Linked DNA regions of Homo sapiens: region 2 is linked to region 1. A link means that fine-mapping ties the variant in region 1 to the plasma level of a protein whose gene starts in the linked region. Region 1 holds a variant in brackets. A gene starts in the other region. All regions are shown on their reverse strands. Region 1 overlaps GRN (granulin precursor). Region 2 holds the start of ENTPD2 (ectonucleoside triphosphate diphosphohydrolase 2).

Evidence for each region. PIP is the posterior inclusion probability: the model's chance that the variant is causal. The UK Biobank Pharma Proteomics Project read protein levels with antibody pairs (Olink). The fine-mapping took linkage between variants from a reference panel, not from the people measured, so its PIPs are less certain.
Region 2: ENTPD2 starts here. The variant in region 1 is fine-mapped to the plasma level of the ENTPD2 protein (UK Biobank, PIP above 0.99).

Annotation. Positions count from the first base shown.
Region 1 is chr17:44,352,674-44,358,025 of GRCh38, reverse strand. It overlaps GRN (granulin precursor), which reads right to left. Exons shown (of 13, transcript NM_002087.4): 13 at 4,920-5,352. The coding sequence ends at 5,228. FAM171A2 (family with sequence similarity 171 member A2) reads left to right here. Exons shown (of 8, transcript NM_198475.3): 4 at 1,438-1,596; 5 at 1,674-1,853; 6 at 1,952-2,068; 7 at 2,185-2,311; 8 at 2,835-4,811. The coding sequence ends at 4,293. Among named protein-coding and RNA genes, the nearest start is that of FAM171A2, 8.5 kb to the left of the region's middle. RefSeq lists silencers at 3,239-3,288, 4,319-4,388. The variant G/A (reference allele first, on the strand shown) is at 5,150.
Region 2 is chr9:137,051,383-137,056,734 of GRCh38, reverse strand. It overlaps ENTPD2 (ectonucleoside triphosphate diphosphohydrolase 2), which reads left to right and starts at 2,674. Exons shown (of 9, transcript NM_203468.3): 1 at 2,674-2,854; 2 at 4,387-4,504; 3 at 5,075-5,225. The coding sequence starts at 2,738. It overlaps LOC105376327 (a long non-coding RNA gene), which reads right to left and starts at 4,390. Exons shown (of 2, transcript XR_930455.2): 1 at 3,860-4,390; 2 at 3,360-3,725. RefSeq lists silencers at 2,439-2,518, 2,619-2,688.

The sequences.
Region 1 (5,352 bases):
GATGGGCCTGGAGCCCGATGGCCTGGGCTTCTATCCGGGCTCGAGGATTGTGACCTCGTGCAAGTTACTGAACCCCTGTGCCTCCATTTCTGCACCTCTAAAATGAGGTTGATAATAGATACCTAGCTCAGGGGCTATTTTCCTAATTGCAGGGGTTAATATAGGTAACCTGCTTAGAACAGTGCCCAGCATAGCTTAAAGATTAATAAATGTTAGCTGTGACCATATTGTATTGGAATTGTTTGTATGTCTGTCCCCTCCACCCCAACACACACACACACACACACACACACACGACCTAAACTGTCTAATGCAGTAGCCACTAGCTACATATTAAATTGAAGTAAATTAAATTAAAAATTCATTAATTTTTTTTTTTGAGATGGATTCTCACTCTGTTGCCCAGGCTGGAGTACAATGGCATGATCTTGGCTCACTGCAACCTCTGCTGCCTGGGTTCAAGCGATTCTCCTGCCTCAGCCTCCCGAGTAGCTGGGATTACAGGCGCCTGCCACCGCACCTGGCTAATTTTTGTAGTTTTAGTAGAGATGGGGTTTCACCATCTTGGCCAGGCTGGTCTTGAACTCCTGACCTCGTGATCCACCTGCCTTGGAATCCCAAAGTGCTGGGATTACAGGCGTGAGCCACCGCGCTCGGCCTTTTTTTTTTTTTTCTTTTGAGATGGAGTTTCGCTCTTGATGCCCAGACAGGAGTGCAATGGCACAATCTCAGCTCACCGCAACCTCCCCCTCCCAGTTTCAAGTGATTCTCCTGCCTCAGCCTCACGAGCAGCTGGGATTACAGGAATGCACCACCACACCCAGCTAATTTTGTATTTTTAAGAGAGTCAGGGTTTCTCCATGTTGGTCAGGCTGGTCTCCAACTCCTGACCTCAGGTGATCCACCCACCTTGGCTTCCCAAAGTGCTGGGATTATAGGCATGAGCCACTGCACCCACCTAGAAAAAAATCATTACATTTTTAAAAATTAAAAATCCAGTTCCTCAGTCACACTAGCCACATTTCAAATGCTTAACAGCCACGTGTGTCCAGTGGGTACCATAATGGGCAGCACACCTAGAAAACATTCCCATCACAGCAGACGTTCATCTTTGGGCCCCCAGTGTCTAACCTGGTGCCTGCCACATAGTAGACAATACTGTTTGAGGATCTGGATCGCAACATTTTATAGGTTCTATAAGGAAACTTTCTACTAAAACAAGTAAATTGCTGAGGGTCACACAGAGATTTCAGGTCCATGTCCCTTCCAGGTTAACATTCCATGACTGCCCAGCTTTCTCCCCAAGGCATCACCCTCCCTGGCCTTCCAAAGTGGCCTGACCTCATGTCCCCCTTTTCCTTAGATAATGGGTTTCTGCTCTGGTCCCTGGGGATCCCTGTCCATGGTCAAGCCACTGCAGCCCCTCTTTCCCTCCAGGTGCCCGCTCCCAGCCCTTGGTGCAGTTCCAGCGCCGGGCTGCCCGCCTGCCTGTCAGCTCCACCTACAGCCAGCTCTGGGCGTCACTTACGCCTGCCAGCACCCAGCAGGAAATGCGGGCTTTCCCTGCCTTCCTGGGCACTGAGGCCTCCAGCTCAGGTAGGCTGGGTGCCCAGCACGGATGGGGTCTCCCCAGGCTCAGGATCAGCCCTCAGCCCTGTACCCTCTTCCCTCAGGCAATGGCTCCTGGCTGGAGCTGATGCCCCTGACTGCTGTGAGCGTGCACCTGCTGACAGGTAATGGGACAGAGGTGCCGCTCTCAGGCCCCATTCACCTGTCCCTGCCCGTGCCCTCCGAGACTCGTGCCCTCACCGTGGGCACCAGCATTCCAGCCTGGAGATTTGACCCCAAGAGTGGTAAGTGCCTCAGGGGGCTGCAGGTGCTTGAGTTGAGAGAAGAAAGTGGGACTTGAGTGGGAGCGACTCAAGTGTGACAAAACCCCTGCCTCTCCCAGGGCTGTGGGTGCGCAATGGCACTGGTGTAATCCGGAAGGAAGGCCGGCAGCTCTACTGGACCTTCGTCTCCCCCCAGCTGGGGTACTGGGTGGCCGCCATGGCCTCCCCCACGGCTGGTAAGAGTAGTGGGGCAGTGGGCGTAGAGGCCGCGGAGGAGGGGAGCTGGGAGAGCAGACTTCTGAAAGGCAGGAAGGGTGTCTACACCTGAACGCTAAGCCCTCGCCTGGCACAGGGCTGGTCACCATCACGTCGGGCATCCAGGACATCGGCACCTACCACACCATCTTCTTGCTCACCATCCTGGCAGCCCTGGCCCTGCTGGTGCTTATCCTGCTGTGTCTGCTCATCTACTACTGCCGGTGAGCACGGGGCTTCCCTCACCCTCCCCTGCACTTGTACCGGGCCCTGGGGCCCCAAAGATGCATAAAATCCACTTCTGGTCCTCAAGGGGCAGACAGGAAAAGACTTCCTGCAAACATGCTAAGACCTGAAGGGCTGGTGCTGGTGGTTGAAGACAGCGGGGAGGTGGGAGGGGAGGCAGGGCTTAAGGACTTGCAGCCCGGCCCCTCCAGAGAGATCTGCCACTGCCCCTACCAGCCCAGCTCTCTCTCCCAGAGGACTCCAGGCCGGACACACCCATAGACAGCTTAGATGCTCATCCCTGGTTCTCGCAGCACATCCTACATGCAGAGGAGTGCAGAGTTGACCCTGAGGGGATCGCCAAACGGACACGGCGGCTCCCCGCCATCTCTCCTGAGCGCCCCAGGCATTCTCCCCACCTCTTCCACTATATTCGTCTCTTGTCTTGCATCTAAGGGGGTTCGGGGCCTACTTTGGCCCTCACCCTTTCCTGAGCGGCCCCTTCTGCTCCCTCCCTTCCAGGAGGCGCTGCCTGAAGCCGAGGCAACAGCACCGCAAGCTGCAGCTCTCGGGGCCCTCTGACGGTAACAAACGAGACCAGGCCACCTCGATGTCCCAGCTCCACCTCATCTGTGGGGGACCCCTGGAACCCGCCCCGTCGGGGGACCCCGAGGCTCCGCCTCCAGGCCCCCTCCACTCGGCCTTCTCCAGCTCCCGGGACTTGGCCTCCTCCCGGGATGACTTCTTCCGCACCAAGCCGCGCTCTGCCAGCCGCCCGGCCGCCGAGCCTTCGGGTGCCCGCGGGGGCGAGAGCGCCGGGCTCAAGGGCGCTCGCTCGGCCGAGGGCCCCGGCGGGCTGGAGCCCGGCCTAGAGGAGCACCGGCGGGGGCCCTCGGGGGCTGCGGCCTTCCTGCACGAGCCGCCCTCGCCGCCGCCGCCCTTCGACCACTACCTGGGCCACAAGGGGGCGGCCGAGGGCAAGACCCCCGACTTCCTGCTGTCGCAGTCGGTGGACCAGCTGGCGCGGCCGCCGTCGCTGGGCCAGGCGGGGCAGCTCATCTTCTGCGGCTCCATCGACCACCTCAAGGACAACGTCTACCGCAACGTCATGCCCACCCTGGTGATCCCCGCGCACTACGTGCGCCTCGGCGGCGAGGCGGGCGCCGCCGGCGTGGGCGACGAGCCGGCCCCGCCGGAGGGCACGGCACCCGGCCCGGCGCGCGCTTTTCCCCAGCCCGACCCCCAGCGCCCGCAGATGCCGGGCCACTCGGGCCCGGGGGGCGAGGGCGGCGGGGGCGGCGGCGAGGGCTGGGGGGCCGGGCGCGCGGCGCCCGTCAGTGGCTCAGTCACCATCCCTGTGCTATTCAACGAGTCCACCATGGCGCAGCTCAACGGGGAGCTGCAGGCCCTGACCGAGAAGAAGCTGCTGGAACTGGGCGTGAAGCCGCACCCGCGCGCCTGGTTCGTGTCCCTCGACGGGCGCTCCAACTCGCAAGTGCGCCACTCTTACATCGACCTGCAGGCGGGCGGCGGGGCACGCAGCACCGACGCCAGCCTGGACTCGGGCGTAGATGTCCACGAGGCGCGGCCCGCGCGCCGCCGGCCCGCGAGGGAGGAGCGGGAGCGCGCCCCGCCTGCCGCGCCGCCGCCGCCGCCCGCGCCCCCGCGCCTGGCGCTCAGCGAGGACACGGAGCCCAGCAGCAGCGAGAGCCGCACGGGCCTCTGCTCTCCGGAGGACAACTCGCTGACGCCGCTGCTGGACGAGGTGGCGGCGCCCGAGGGCCGGGCGGCCACGGTACCCCGGGGGCGGGGCCGCAGCCGCGGGGACAGCTCCCGCAGCAGCGCCAGCGAGCTGCGGCGCGACTCGCTCACCAGCCCGGAGGACGAGCTGGGGGCGGAGGTGGGCGACGAGGCGGGAGACAAGAAGAGCCCGTGGCAGCGGCGGGAGGAGCGGCCGCTGATGGTGTTCAACGTCAAGTAGCGCCCGCGCAGGGCCTGGCACCGCCCCTCCCGCGCGGGCCCGCACCCAGGGTGCGCGCCCCGGGGGCCCGCGGGGGCCCTCGCGCGTAGCTCCCAGCCCCAGGCCGGAGAGGGGCCCAGGGGCCTTGGAGCTGTTCCGTGGTTGGTGCTGGGTCGTGTCTTGCAAGGGACCCTGTGTCTGCCTCCAAGCCGGGGAGGAGGGGGGGTCCAGACCCCCACGGGGAGGTGCCGGGGAGGAGGGCTGGGGGGAAGCAGTGCCTGTGTAGACGTGGCTGTACATAGAAAGCTCTATTGTGGGAAAGCAGGAGGGGTGACCCAGCCTCAGCTGCTAGTGTGAGGGCTGGGAAGGGAGGGGGCGTTCTTTGTGGACCCCTGGGAGGGGAGGGGGTGCTGCTTGCTGACTAGCCCATCTCTGGGCTACGATGTCACAGGGCTGGTGGCTGGGACAGCTCTGGGGACTAGGGGGTAATGTGATACAGCCGATGTGGGCAGCAGCAAATATAAAACTGGTGAGGTTAAGGCTGTGTATGTCTTTCTGTGGGGTAGGGGAGGGGAGTGTTGGCAGTGGACGTGAACCCCTGTTCTGGGGCCCTGGGGAGGGCAGGCAGGGCGGCAAATCAGACACTGTTAAGAAAGTGTACAAACTTTATTGAAACGCACACGCGCACACACACAAACACCCCTGTGGATAGGGAAAAGCACCTGGCCACAGGGTCCACTGAAACGGGGAGGGGATGGCAGCTTGTAATGTGGCTTTTGCCACAACCCCCTTCTGACAGGGAAGGCCTTAGATTGAGGCCCCACCTCCCATGGTGATGGGGAGCTCAGAATGGGGTCCAGGGAGAATTTGGTTAGGG[G/A]GAGGTGCTAGGGAGGCCTGAGCAGAGGGCACCCTCCGAGTGGGGTCCCGAGGGCTGCAGAGTCTTCAGTACTGTCCCTCACAGCAGCTGTCTCAAGGCTGGGTCCCTCAAAGGGGCGTCCCAGCGCGGGGCCTCCCTGCGCAAACACTTGGTACCCCTGGCTGCGCAGCGGAAGCCAGCAGGACAGCAGTGGCGCCGATCAG
Region 2 (5,352 bases), not on the chromosome of region 1:
GCCTCAGCCTCCCAAATAGCTGGAATTACAGGTGTCTGCCACTACAGCCGACTAATTTTTTTTTTTTTTTTGACTCGCTCTGTCACCCAGGCTGGAGTGCAGTGGCGCGATCTTGGCTCACTGCAAGCTCCGCCTCCCGGGTTCACACCATTCTCCTGCTTCAGCTTCCCGAGTAGCTGGGACTACAGGTGCCCGCCACCACGCCCGGCTAATTTTTTGTATTTTTAGTAGAGATGGCATTTCACTGCGTTAGCCAGGATGGTCTTGATCTCCTGACCTGATGATCCGCCCGCCTCAGCCTTCCAAAGTGCTGGGATTACAGGAGTGAGCCACCGCGCCCGGCCCACAACCGGCTAATTTTTGTATTTCTATTAGAGACGGCGTTTCACCATGTTGGCCAGGCTGGTCTTGAACTCCTGACCTTAAGTGATCCACCTGCCTCAGCTTCCCAAAGTGCTGGAATTACAGACGTGAGCCACACAGCACAAGCTTCTGATGTGGAGACTGAGGCAGGGCAGCCAAGATGTCAGCAGGCCTCAGGAAAGCCCCCCTCCCTGGGAGGTCTGAGCCCTGCGTGGGCGGGAGGCTCCGAGTTCCCTCCCCCAGGGGTTCTCCCCTAACCTCTCTGCATCCGCATGTTCCCAGCTCAGCCGGGGTCATGTGCAGCACATCTGGAGGCCCCATCCCCGAGAGGGTCCTGGAAGCCGAGAGCTGCCCCACCCAGAGGCCCCTCCACCCCTTCAGCTCCTGCCAGCTTCCCTCTGACGCTCTCCCAAGTCTGCCTTCCAGGGTCCCTGAGTCCATGCCAGGAAGGGGCGTTCCCCCGCCCTCACTCCGTCTCAAAGAGAGCTCAGCCTCAGCCTTTGTCCTGGCCGCTCTGGGCTCCCTGCCTCTCCCTCCGCAGGCGAAGCTGGGCACTCGGCCATGAGCCTGTCTCCCCGGGGCAGAGTCCAGCTCCCCTCTCCCTCCCCATCCTCTCAGGCCTGGCAGACCTCCCACTCCCTGGCTTGAGCTTTTTGTCCATGAAAAGAGTCCAGAACACCAGGAAGCCCCGCTGGGCCTGGAGGGAAGCGGGGTACCGCAGGCCAGTGGGGGTCGCAGCACCCTGCCTCTGGGCGGCCTTTGTTCCTTCCTTTTCAGGCATGATGTGCACTGTGCGTGCCTCTCCCTCCTCTGGGCGGTCAGGGGTGGAAGAAAGGCCTGGGGTGTGTGGGGGGAAACTGGGGCCTGGGGCCTGGAGCTTAGCACCGGCAACACCCAGAGATTGCCTGCTGGAGCCCCGCCAGGCTGGGCTGTGAGGCTGAGGCAGCAGAGAGGCTTCCCAGGGTTCCCACCCCTCCCTTTGGGGTCCTGAGCTGGAAGAAAGATGCCTTTACTGGGCCTGTGGCGCCAGACCCTCAGCCCAGGCAGCAATCCCAGCACAATTGTCACTGCCCGTTCCAGAAGGCCGGGCATGGTCTGGACCCTGCCCCATGGGGCTGCCCTTTGGGCCCCAGCAGCCTGCACTCCCTGGTGGCCTTGCCTCGTGGCTCCCTGACGCTGTGTGGCTGGAATTATTGGGACAAGAATTCCCACTTTGCAGCAGGCGCAAAGGGGGTGGCCCCTGGCCGGGCTGGGATGCGGGGCCTGTGAGGCTGCAGAGCCGAAAGGCCAGCCATGTCGTGGGACGGAGGAGCAGGGCTTGCGTCTGGGGCCAGCTGCGCTTCGCCTGCCCCAGCCGTCCCCAGAAGCCTGTTGCTGACCCGCACCCCAAGCTTGGCCTGGGGACCCTCTTCCTTGCCTTTCAGGCCACGTAGAGGCCCCACCTGTTTCCGTCCTGGGGAAGCCTCCTCTGGCCTCCGCAGCCCAAGCCTCTGTTCCCCTCAGGCCGAGGGGGCAGCAGGCGCGGCTGAGGCCCTGGGCTGGGAGGTATGGACCTTTGGCCCGGTCTGTGCTGCTTCTCCTGTTTCTCGGCTCGGTGTGACCTGGGCCGTCCCTCCCCTTCCCCGTTCCTGCGTCCTCACCTTCACCTCAGTACAGGGCCCAGGTGAGGTGGATCTGACTGGGCCTCAAGGGTAGTTCTGGCCTGGGTCAGCTGCGTGTCTCTGGAGCTGACCTGCGCTGGCTCAGCGCCGCAGGCTGGCGGATCCTTGCTGGCCGGGAGGGCATCCCGCAGGCCAGCCTGGTCCTCACCAGCCCTGGGAGTTGGCGCTCAGGGCCCTGCTCCACAAACAGGTGCTGACCCTCGGCTTCCTCCTGAGTCCCCAGCCCGGGCCCCGCGTGGCTCCGCAGCCGACAGTGCCTCATTCCTGCAAGCGAGTCTGGCCTCCTTTCCCGGGCCCGGGAAAAGCGCGGCTCTCCAGCACAGGACCCTCCGAGCCAGCCTCGCCCGCCCACCCCCACGCCAGGTCTCCTGCCTCCACGGCCGGGGGATCCCCTTGCTGAGTGGGCGGGAAGGGGAAGGTGGGCCATAGCCGCGGGGCGCCCGGGCTCAGACCCGGGAGCCGGGGGGCGGTGCTGGTGACTCAGCCGCGCCCGCGTCTCTCACCTGCGCGGGCCGGACGGCGGAAGCTTGGGAGCGGAGGCGAAACCTGTCCGCCCGTGGGCGTGGCCGGTGATGGGCGGGCCCGCCCGGCCTCCCGCCCCTCGTCCCGCCCCGGGGCCCCTACCCCGCGGTCCCGCGGCCCCGCCCGCCTCCGCCTCCGGCTCCCCGCACTCTCCGGGTCCACGCATCGTCCTCCCGCGCGCCCGCCCGCCCATGGCCGGGAAGGTGCGGTCACTGCTGCCGCCGCTGCTGCTGGCCGCCGCGGGCCTCGCCGGCCTCCTACTGCTGTGCGTCCCCACCCGCGACGTCCGGGAGCCGCCCGCCCTCAAGGTGCGCGCCCGGGCACCCAGCGCACGTCTGGGGAGCAGCGGGCCGGGCTTGGAGCCGGGGAGGGGGTGCGGCTGGGAACCTGAGCAGGATCAGCCCGGGACCCCCACCGTGCTCTGCTCCTGGCGGGCTGGGTGGGGTCCCGGGTTCCGCGCTCTGCGCTCCCCGACCGGGTACGCGGAGGGGGCGGGGGGCGGTGGCGCTTCCAGGGCGACGCGGTGCTGAAGGAACAAGTCCCGGGAGTTCCGCGCCCGCCGCCGAGTCCGTCAACGCAGCCCAGGGGCTGTGTCCCCGCTCCCGGGATAGCCCAGCGATGCCCCCTGGGTGCTGCCGGACGCCCGCCCCCAGGCCTGTGCGGGCCCCCAGGGGCACTCCGGGCCACTTCTGCCCTGTGCCGCCGCCCCGGAGGGTGCGGTTAGAGCCACATCGACTGGGTATTCAGCCCAGATGGGGATCCACAAGCCCCAGGACCCAGGGCCCCCGCCAGGACACGAGAGTGGCCCAGAAAGACAGGAGGGCTTGACCGGAGCAGCCCTGGCCGGTCCTCAAAAGGTTGGAGCAGGCTAGCCTGGATCTCCACTCCAGCAGGCCCAGGGACCTCCTGGTCGGCCCCTTTAACCCTTTATTGGGCTTGTAGGGGGGTGGGGTGGAGAGCCAAGTCCCCCAGCCTGATGGGGAGTCAGAAGCAGGGAGCTCTGCGGCCCTGCAGGACGGCCATGTGGCGGTGCACGCGCTGACCTGTTGATGCTCTGGGCTCTGGGGAAGCCTTGGTCGGGATGGACTGGTGCGGCCCTCTCGGAGGCTGGAATTGGCGCCCGGGCCTGGGAGGCTGGTCCCCAGCTTTCCAGGTGGATCCAGGATGCTGGGGCAGGAGCTGGAAAAGGGCATTTACAAGCTCGTGCCACTCAGGTCTGCAGGAAGGCCCACCCAGCACCCCCAACAAGGCAGGGCCAGCCTCTCTCTCTGGCCCTGGCTTGGAGGCCTAGGGAGAGTGTCTTTAGAGCTGACCTGGCTCTGAGGCCCACGGCCAGCCTCGGTGGACCTTCTTCACCTGGGGCCCTGCCTCCTGCATCCTCAGGTTGGGCTGCCGTCAGAGGAGCTGGAAGGAGACAGAGGAGGAAGGAAGAGGGGAGGAAGGAAGAGGGACTCTAGGGAGCTCCTCTTGCAGAGGAGCTTCCTCTCCCTGAGCCTGGGAAACTTGTGCCCCAGGGAAAAGTCCCTGGGGACCCTCTGTCCCTCTGTCCCTGACTCAGTCCCTCAGTCTGCCCTTGCCAGGAAGGCTGCTGCCCAGACCCTGGCATGCTGGCTTCAGGTAGTCAGGAGGGAAGAGTCACCTCCCCACCACCTCCCTGTTCTCCTTCCAACCACGGCCTCAGAGGAGGCCCTGGCCTCCTCTGAGCTTCAGCATGAGGCTTGGCACATGACTGGGTGGGGGGGGGAGCGGTGGCAAACTGGAGGAACCCAACTTCACGTTTGGTGTCAGGGTGTCAGGGCCCCCGGACACCCCAGGCTGACTCCCTCCCCCTCCCCCGCAGTATGGCATCGTCCTGGACGCTGGTTCTTCACACACGTCCATGTTTATCTACAAGTGGCCGGCAGACAAGGAGAACGACACAGGCATTGTGGGCCAGCACAGCTCCTGTGATGTTCCAGGTGAGGCCCAGCCCAGCCCAGCCAGGACGCCCACTCACTGCAGGGTCTCTGGGACCCTCTCCAGCCTTAGCCAGTGCAGGTCCTTCTGCTTAGTGTTGGGTGGGGCTCACTCCAGGCAGAAGCCCTGGAAAGAGAGAGGCTGGTGCCCCTGCGCCTGAGTGGGGCCAGGAGTCGTTTGCATTCTAGAAAGGAAGCCTAGGCAGCAGGTGGGGAGGTTTGAGCCTCGCCGGGCCCAGTATTGGCTTCTGTGCCCCAGATGGAGCAGGAGGAGGTCTGGGGGCCTGGCGGACACACCCAGGCAGGCCTCAGGAGGCCAACCTGGGTTGACCATGCCCAGGGCTTTGTCCTAGCACCTGCACCCACACCCTCTCAGCAGGCAGCAGCCTTGGTCTCCGGGTGGCACCTGGGCCCCTTTGTCTCCAACCTGGGCGTTTCTGGGGGCTTAAGCAGGGAAGGTGTGCCACCTGGTCTGGGAGCCCACGGCCCCCACCCCCACCCTCACTCTCCTGGCCTACGGCCCACCTAGGGGCTGCCCGTGAGGCATAGGCTCATCTCTCTGCCTCCCTCTAGGTGGGGGCATCTCCAGCTATGCAGACAACCCTTCTGGGGCCAGCCAGAGTCTTGTTGGATGCCTCGAACAGGCGCTTCAGGATGTGCCCAAAGAGAGACACGCGGGCACACCCCTCTACCTGGGAGCCACAGCGGGTATGCGCCTGCTCAAGTGAGTGTGCCTGTGCCCTGGCCCTGTCCCCATGATGGCCTTTGGCTGTGACCCCTTGCAGGGCGGACTCCGAGCACCCCTACAGCAGGCTCACAGCCACCTGGGGAGAAGGCCTCTTGGAGTTCTC